Linked DNA regions of Homo sapiens: regions 1 and 2 are each linked to region 3. Evidence: fine-mapped expression QTL. A gene starts in region 3. Each other region holds a variant in brackets. All regions are shown on one strand. Distances are between the middles of the regions.

Region 1 (2,760 bases), 21 kb before region 3:
AAGGAGTGGAGAAAAGGAGTAGGGGCCTGTCTTGAAAGGTGTTGAAGTTGTCCCTAAAAGTCCGGGGCTCCCTTCTGGAGGCCATGGGGAAGAGAGGCATGATGAGAGATCTCTGTGGCTTGTGTGTGGTGGGTGGAGGGGGCTTGGAGGCCAGGGACCAGTTAGGAGGCTGTTGCAATAGTCTGGGAAAGGGGAGGGAGCTGGCTGGAGAGCCCGGCGGCAGGGCGGGCCGGGCTGGGGGAGGCAGCCTCCAGAGGCTCCTTAGGGGCAGTCCTGAGCCTGGTCCAAGGGTGTGGTGAGCCCAGTCATGAGTCGGGCAATGGCCAGTACTAGGGCGTCTAAGGGGACGGATGGCTGCAGGCCGTCTGACAAGTGGGTGGATGGGATCAGAGGTCAGGAGTCCAGCCTCTGTGGGGGTGAGGGGTTGGGGGGCAAGCAGGCAAAGCAGGAGAAGAAAGGTCAAAGGCCAAATTCCAGATGTCTTGGCTGGGCCTACTTGCAAGTGGAAGGAGGCCTGAGCCAGCATGAGGGATGGAGAAGGCAGGAAGGGGCACCTCTGGCCTCTGTGAGGCTAAGCGTCTGGTGGATTGGGAATGAGACTTGGAGAGGTATCTGGTTGCTCAGTTCGGGAGGGTGCCCAGCACTCAGCAGCCTCCCCAAGGTTGTGTGAGGTAAGGTTGAGGCTGCCCAAGAACTGTTTTATCTAGTGAGGCTGGAGGATGTAGCGGGCATAGCATCAGGGATCTGGGTTTAAGGGGCTGGAGAGGGGTTGGTTGGGGTCTTGTTCTTCCTGCTAGTCTTTCAGCCTAGCAGAGAGAAGATGCTAATTGATACAATAAATGCTTGGAGGATGGGTGGGTGGATATATGGATGGATGGATGCATGGATGGATGGAGGCATGCATGAGTGGATGGACTGATGGACGGATGGATGAATGCATGCATGGATAATGAATGAGTGGGGTGGCTGGCTGGGTGGATACATGGATGTTGATCTGGGGTGGGTGTGTGGGTGGATGGATGCATGGATGGGTGAATGCATGGGTGTGTGGGTGGGTGGATACATGAGTAGATGGGTAGATGGATGAATGCATGTATGCACAGATGTATGAGTGGGTAGAAGGATGCTTGGGCAGAAGATGGATGGATGGGTGGATGGATGGATGGATAGATGTATGCATGCATAGGGCTGTATGTGGCTGGACAGATGCATGGGTGGGTGGCTGGACAGATGCATGGGTGGGTGGATGAGTGGGCAGAGGCATGCATAGATGATGCATGGGTGCGTGGTGGGTAGATGCATGAGTA[G/A]ATGGGCAAATGGATGGATGCATGGGTGGGTGGGTGGATGGATGCATGCATGCATGTATGAAGGCATGGGTGGGTGGATGCATGGGTGGATAGATGGATGGATGCATGGGTGGGAGAGTGAATAGATGGATGGATGCATGGATGCATGGGTGGGTGGGAGGATGTTTACGTGGAGAATAGGTGGATGGGTGGTTGGGTGGACGGGAGGCTAAATGGAAGGATGTAGAAATGAGTAAGTGGATGGATGGATAGATGGGTAGGTGGGCAGGTGTGTGGATGAGAAGATTTTGAGATGCATGTTTGGATATAGGGCCACAGGCAGAAGTGGGAGGTCCTGAGTCATAACTAGCAGCCACCATGATGAATGACATGCTCAGAACAGAACTCCGCGGCTCTGCAGAAGTGCAGCCCAGGACAGGACAACTTAGACTACCACTGGCAGGGATCAGGTGTGATGCTTCTCGTGGTACCAAACAGCCTGTTTTCTGCTGGGTTCTGAGGCCAACATGTCTCCCTGGCTGAGGGTAGGGACGATGTACCTTCCAAGCTCAGGAGGCCAGGCTCAGCTCACATCAGGGGTCAGGAGGCTGGGGTTCCCTGCTCTGATCATGGCCCATATGAGGGGAGCTCATCTGAAGAACAGCATGAACACAGAGGCCCATGGCCTGAGAAGGAGCCTTGTCTTGCAGCTACTGGGACAGGCAAGAAGCAGATGGTGGTTTTGGATGCCATGTGTGGGCCTGTGGGGGTGAGGGTGAGGGCGGCCTGAAGAAGGGCTGGCCCAGAGAGGGCCCAGTGGAACAGCCAGGGTGGGGTATCGAGTGTGATTAGGGGACGCCCCCCAGGCAGGCGTCCTGGACGGCCTTGGCACGCCAGGCCGCTGAGCCAGCACATTGCTTTGTGTACAAATCACCTCCTTTTCTCCTTTTCTTCTGTTCCCATCCCCCACCTCCCTCCACGCCTAAATTCTTCCCAAACCACCCCAGCCTTCGGACTGTCAGGAGGAAGCTTTGATGTGTGGTGGGTGGGAGGCCACTGGTCTTGGGTGGGCGCTGGGGGGTCCCTGCCACCCAAGTCCAGGCATCTACCCCAGGCAGGAGTTGGGGAGGGAAGGGAGCGACTGCAGCCTCCTGCTCCTCCCCCCCAACCTGTGTGCTTCTGGATGGGAGATCCCTGCCGGAAGGGGAGGCAGTGGTGCTGGGGAGTGGGCCGGGTGGGAGGAATAGGCTTGGGGAAGGGGGACCCAGGAAAAGTGTGGTCCAGACCAGGCCTAGCCCCTGAGGGTAAAGGATCTTGCCGACCGAAGGGGGCTGAGGGTTGGGGGTGTATTTACCATGGTGAGAGGCCATGTTCGTGTTCCTGGATGCTTGCATGTGTGCATGTGTGTGTGCACGTGCATGTGTGTGTGCATGTGTGTGTGCGTGTGCATGTGTGTGCTTGCAAAGGCCTGGGA
Region 2 (2,760 bases), 66 kb after region 3:
GGGAGGGCAGCTGAGAAGTGCCTGACCATTCTCAAGGAGCTGCGTGGATTCCAGACATCTCTGGGCTGGTCTCTGGACCGGGATGGGGGACCCAGAGGTGGAGCCGAACACACAAGCAGCACTTGAGGGCTCCGAGGGTGGCAAGGAGAGAAGTTCCTGCTCTGGTACAGCCCTGGGACCTTGAAAGGTGCTTCAACAGAGCGTCCACTCCCAGCGCCTAGCTCTGGGACCTTGAATGGTGCTTTAACAGAGCGTCTGCTCCCAGCGCCAAGCCCTCAGTGCAGAGGGGGAGACTCAGGCGGCCCTCAGACACAATTCGCCAAGGTCGCACAGCAAGTCAGGGTGCCGCTAAGACTAGGACCTACAGCTCTGCCTCCTGGCCCAGGCTCCTCAGCACCTGGGCCCCAGAGGACAGCCTGTGGGAGGCCCACATGGCCACTGCACCATGAACCAAGGACCTGGTCCGGGTCCACCTCCACCAAGTGCTGGCCGTGTGTCACTGGGGTCACTCCACTCTCTGCATTAGGTCTCAGTCATCCAAGACCATCTTTCAAGGGCCGTCACTCCAATTATGAGTCTGGGATTTTCTGAAATTGAGCATTTTGGCCAGGCTGTGGGGTCCCTCTATGACTGCCTGTAAGACACTGCCAAGGGGACTTTCTTCCTTTCACCAGACTGAAGCTAAGAAGTGCTGGAGACAGCAGTTGCTTTAGCCACAGGCTGTGTAGACCACCTGAGGATGACCTGGGGGTCTGTTTTGTGCACCTTGGAACCCATCGGATCCCTCCAATGGTGAGTCCCCTGGTGTACCCAGCACCAAGCTGTGAGAACGACCCCCAACGGGTTGGGTGGAAGAAGCAAAACTACAGGCTCAGTCCCAGTACTTACTCCCCTGTGTCCACACAGGCCAGGTCTCCAGGGTCCCTGCCCATCCAGGGCTGAGAACGTGGTCCTCTGGGAGCCTTCAGGCCCACTCGGACCCCAGCATTGGGCAATGGGCTCATCCCTACCTGAAACTGGGGCTTGGGGTTGCAGCATTCAACTTCCAAAGCCCAAGAGGCACTGGGACAGGTGGCCCAGCAGGCTCAGAGATGCTCAAGTGCCAGAGGTTGGGAGGGCCCTTTGAGGCTAAGGGGTCTGACCCACTGCCATTTTGCAAATACAAAAACTGAGGCCCAGGGAGGGAGAGAGGTTTGCAGAACACGCCCAGCAGGCTAGTGGTAGAGCTGGGAACAGAATCTGCATCTTCTGCTGCTCCTATTCAGAACTATTCCCCTGCACCAAACATAATCCGCTGACATCTAGACTGAGCTCAGCTCGTCTTCTTCCTGGACCTTGGACTCCTTGGCAGAAGGCTCTCCCAACTCACAGCCTGTCAGGGATGGCAATTCAGGGGCTTTCCCTTCAACC[T/C]GATGGTCCTTTCCACCAAAGCTTCCTGGTGCTCCTCCCCTCCCACCAGTGCTCAGCCCTTCTTGGCTTCAGAAGCTGCTCCATCAGCAGCCGTAAGGGTCACTCTCCCCTGCTCACCATGGTTCACCCAACTCCCTGTGGTTCCCGCGTTCCCCAGCATGGGGAGCACCATTCTCCCTGCTCGTGGGGGTCTCCTCTTTGTTGCCCCTCGGCCCAGTCCCTGACCTTCTCTGACCACTGGAGCCTTAAATCCCATCAGTCTTTCCTGGGACCCCCGGACTGTTCCCTGTAGATTTCCTCTCTGTTGGCCCAGGGCCTGTGAGAGTAATGATGGCTGGCATGTCATAGGGCTGCTGTGAGGTTTTCATGAATTAATACACTCATCAGGTACACAAGGTGTGGGTAGGTGCCTCATCTGTAAACTCCTATGTTACGAGCTGTGCCCTGATAGTAACAAGGAGAGACTTGAAGCTGGAGCCTCTGGAGGCTGAGGTATCTGTTGGTGGAAGGGGAAGAAAGGAGGTGCCAGCCTGGAGGAGTTTTTAGTAATGGGAGATAATGGGAGCCACAAGGGTCTTAAGCTGGGAAGAACATGGTCAGGTTGGCTTCCGGAAGAATGGCAAGGGGAGCTGGGCTGCTGAGCACCAGAAGGGTGTGTTGGGCCCGGCCCGGGACCTCCGTCTCTGGCTTTGGTGAGCAGTGGAGGGGGCAGCTGCTGCCCGGGGAAGGAGCCTGCTGGGGCCCGAGCCAGAGCCCTGAGGGGCACTTTATGTGCATCCCTCCACTTCTCCAGGCTGCAGCCTTAGCCTGGTTTACTCCATCTGGTGCTCTCAGACCTGGCCTGGATCAAAGCTGCCGGTGGGTACCCAGGCTATTTCTACACTTGCAGTGCCAGGACATGTGCTGCCTCCTGAACCAGCCCCTGCCGTCTCTGCATAGCCTTGTTCAAAATTATATTTTTCATAAAGTTAAGATAATGACCAACATTCTGCCATGTGAGCATTTCTTGTGCTCCTTTTATGCATCAGGCATTTTCTGAGTGTTTTAACTAATTAACTCCTTTAATGCTAACATCAGTCCCTTGATAGGGGTGCCATCATTCTCCCCACTTCTGTATTTAACAAATCGGTAAACTGAGGCACAAAAGGTTAAGTCACTTAACTGACCGATGTCACAAAGGCAGTCTGTGGAGGAGGCAGGACTCAGCCCAGATTCTCCTCCCCCGCCACCCTCTCCTGCCTCAGGTACATCCCCTCCCACTGGCCTTTCCACGTGGACCGTGTCTCTCCCACTGCCTCTTGATGGTCCTTCAAACATCTGCAAATGCCACACCACCTCCTCAAGCCTCCT
Region 3 (2,760 bases):
TCACCAAAGGGGCAGATGAGGAGACCCCTACAAAGGAGGAGGCAAAACCCGAAGTGGTGGAGAAAGAGTTTTAGAAGAAAGCCAAGTACTGCCAAGGAGTAATTGCACTGATAGTGCCAAGTACTGCCAAGAGATCACCTAAGAAGAAGAAAACAGTCCTCTCAGCAGATAATCTCTCAACCTCCTGCAGGCTTCTATTTTATTGTGTTCTTCCAACTTCTCTGGACACTGCTTTGTAGTCCTTTAGAACAGTGCAGACACCACTCCCTCCAGGAAGCTTTGTTTATATCTATTTGCCTGTTCTCATATCTGTCCCCGCAATCAGTCTATGAGCCTCACTAGGGCAGGGGCTGCACATGTAACTTATTTACCTAGCACAGTGCTGGTTCACTTGATGACTGGAGGATTTGCAAATACAAATTTAACAAAAAAATTTTTTGTGAGACAGACATTAGTTTTTACTTTTCGGTAGTCCCAGGTCCCTGTAATGGTAGCAAGCTTTCCTTGACACCAGTTCAAGTTGTGTATAGTAAGCCTGGCCTAGGTGAGTGTTTAGTCATATTCCTCAACAATTTCACTAATGACCTGCACCTGACTTGAAAGGCTCGGTTCTCTAAACCAGCTTCATCTTCCCGTTATCAAGCCTCAGTTCCCAACATTTGCAATGCCTCTTCACTGTTAGTATATTCACTTTGTAAGATGCAGCTTAAGTCTATCTCTTCCAGAAGCCTTTCTTTCCTCCCCCTGGTTCTGATTATGAGTGAGTTAAGTCACAACCTTCCCACCTTACCCCGGGTGCAAAAAGCGGATAACCATTCCTGCTCTGAGTGTTGAGGAGCTCACAGGTGGTAAGGGATGGAAAAGCACACTGTAAAGCGCTGTACACAGGCAATTTATCTTTTCAGAATGGCAGCTCCTCCGGGGCAGGCCCCTAGGGAAGGCAGACCCTCCCCACTCTCGCAGAGGTCAATCCAGCTTCTCCGCAGCGCCCAGGGGGCCTCCCGCTCCCTTCTAGATGCGCCGGAGCGGGCCGGAATATCACTGGCTCGCCCGCAGCCCAGCACGCGTCAGGCCGGTTAAATCTCTGCTTCGGCCTCGGAGGAGGAGGTTGTGCCGGCCCTGCTCGACTAACCGGAGAGGGCGAACCAAAAGCCATGCATGACGATACGCACCGCGGGGACTGGAGCCTCTGGCCTCACGACGGAGATTCCCTGAGAGCTGCCCGTGGTTGCCGGTACCGGCTGCTGCCGCCGGACTCCCGTAGGCGCTGCGCGGCTCCCTTTTCTTCGGGAGGCAGAGCCTATCGGTGCTTCCGTGTGCGTCATCAGGAGGCGACCGTCGGGGATGCTCACAGTTGGACAGTTTGGTCCCGAGGCATGCTGGGATACCGCGGGCCGGTCTCCATAGTAACTGGCCGACATTCGCGCAGGCCTTCGGCCTGCAGGGAAGGCCCTGATGGTTCAGTGCTTTGCAGACGGTGCCCTTCGTCCGCGGCCATCTCCCCACGGCGTGCAAGGGGAGAAGCCGGCCCCGATCCCCCCACCCCCAGCTCAGGAGAGTAACGGAGCCAGCTGTGGGTGTGAACACGCATTTATTTACACATTGTCATCGGTAGGCACATACCCAGCCCAGCCCGTTGAAGGGACAGATCTCAGGCTGTCACCCATGGAACCTGCAGACCCTTCCCTCCTCCAGAACCCTTGAAGGCGAAGCCCTGAGAGAACCAGGAATTTTAGGCTTCTGTTCAAGAGCTAAGAACTAAATTTTATGCCTTCATCTGATTTCTTTCCAAAAAGTCCATTTCATTAAGTATTCAGACTTCTTAGCTCCATCCCATTCATACTTTTTGCTCTCCTACTACCCACCCAAGATTGTTAATAATAACAATAATAATAACAACAATAATACTGCGATAATATTAATACTTCACATTTGTACGAAGCTTACAGAATGTTTTCACATATAGCATCTCATCTGAGCCTCCCAACAGTTCCGTGAGGTAGGTATTCTCACCTCCCTTTTTACAGACAGGGTAACCGAGGCTCAGAGAGGTAACGGGATTTACTCAAGGCCACACAGCTAGTTAGTGGTAAAGCTAGGAATCGATCCCAGCACCCCATATCCAAGTCCAGTGTTTCAACACCACAGCTACCTCTGTAAAGTGGAGCGACATTTCTTACCCCAGTCAGGCCTAAATGGTGGCCTGAGGAGCCAAGAGGCTGACTTCTCAGATTAGGGGAGGGAAGGGCTCAGCAGCGTCGGGGAGAGTTGGGGTACTTGGCCTTCAACTCCTGTTTGAACTGGCGATATAGGATCTTATTGTGCTGATTTTCAGCCTCCTTTTGGGGATGGAACTTCAACGCTTCTTTGAAGCCCTTATGAACCAAGAAACCTTCGTTCAGGACCTCAAAATCAAACCCCGCCACATGCAGCTCGCAGGCCTGCAGGAGGAAAGACAGGTTAGCAAAGTTTGATGACATTGACAGGCCTGAGACTGACTTCCCTAAAGCCACAGTCCAGCGTCCTCACCCCTCTGGAAGTATCCTGGATCTTCCACACCATCCACCCACCTCCTGAACTATGATCCCTCCTGCTTCATTGCCTCCTTTCCATCCAGGGCCACTCCTCATAACTCCCTGATCCCACCACCCCTCCTGCCCCATTACCCCTGCCCTCTCCCTTATGAGCACCTGGCTGATTCGGTTGAAGCCGTACTGCCGAAAGCGCTCGTCGAAGGTGGGCACCTTGCCTCCTGCCACG

Alleles and levels. Alleles are on the strand shown, and positions count from the first base shown. SD is a standard deviation of normalised expression in the study named. Not every link is listed here.
With allele G in place of A in region 1, the expression in non-classical monocytes of the gene that starts at base 1,305 in region 3 is lower (large effect, 0.94 SD a copy in Schmiedel 2018).

What was found. PIP is the estimated chance that this variant, and not a neighbour inherited with it, causes the effect. A credible set is the group of variants that fine-mapping cannot tell apart.
Region 1: its variant is the best candidate, but not a certain one, in a credible set for the expression of BRMS1 in non-classical monocytes (Schmiedel 2018, PIP 0.60).
Region 2: its variant is the best candidate, but not a certain one, in a credible set for the expression of BRMS1 in whole blood (INTERVAL, PIP 0.58).

Annotation. Positions count from the first base shown.
Region 1 is chr11:66,322,646-66,325,405 of GRCh38, forward strand. No RefSeq gene overlaps it. Among named protein-coding and RNA genes, the nearest start is that of CD248, 7.0 kb to the left of the region's middle. The variant G/A (reference allele first, on the strand shown) is at 1,308.
Region 2 is chr11:66,410,182-66,412,941 of GRCh38, forward strand. It overlaps a transcript of NPAS4 not described here. Among named protein-coding and RNA genes, the nearest start is that of NPAS4, 9.5 kb to the right of the region's middle. The variant T/C (reference allele first, on the strand shown) is at 1,411.
Region 3 is chr11:66,343,800-66,346,559 of GRCh38, forward strand. BRMS1 (BRMS1 transcriptional repressor and anoikis regulator) reads right to left here and starts at 1,305. Exons shown (of 10, transcript NM_015399.4): 1 at 1,173-1,305. B4GAT1 (beta-1,4-glucuronyltransferase 1) reads right to left here. Exons shown (of 2, transcript NM_006876.3): 1 at 2,691-2,760; 2 at 1,575-2,441. The coding sequence ends at 2,250. RefSeq lists enhancers at 1,045-1,595, 1,051-1,480.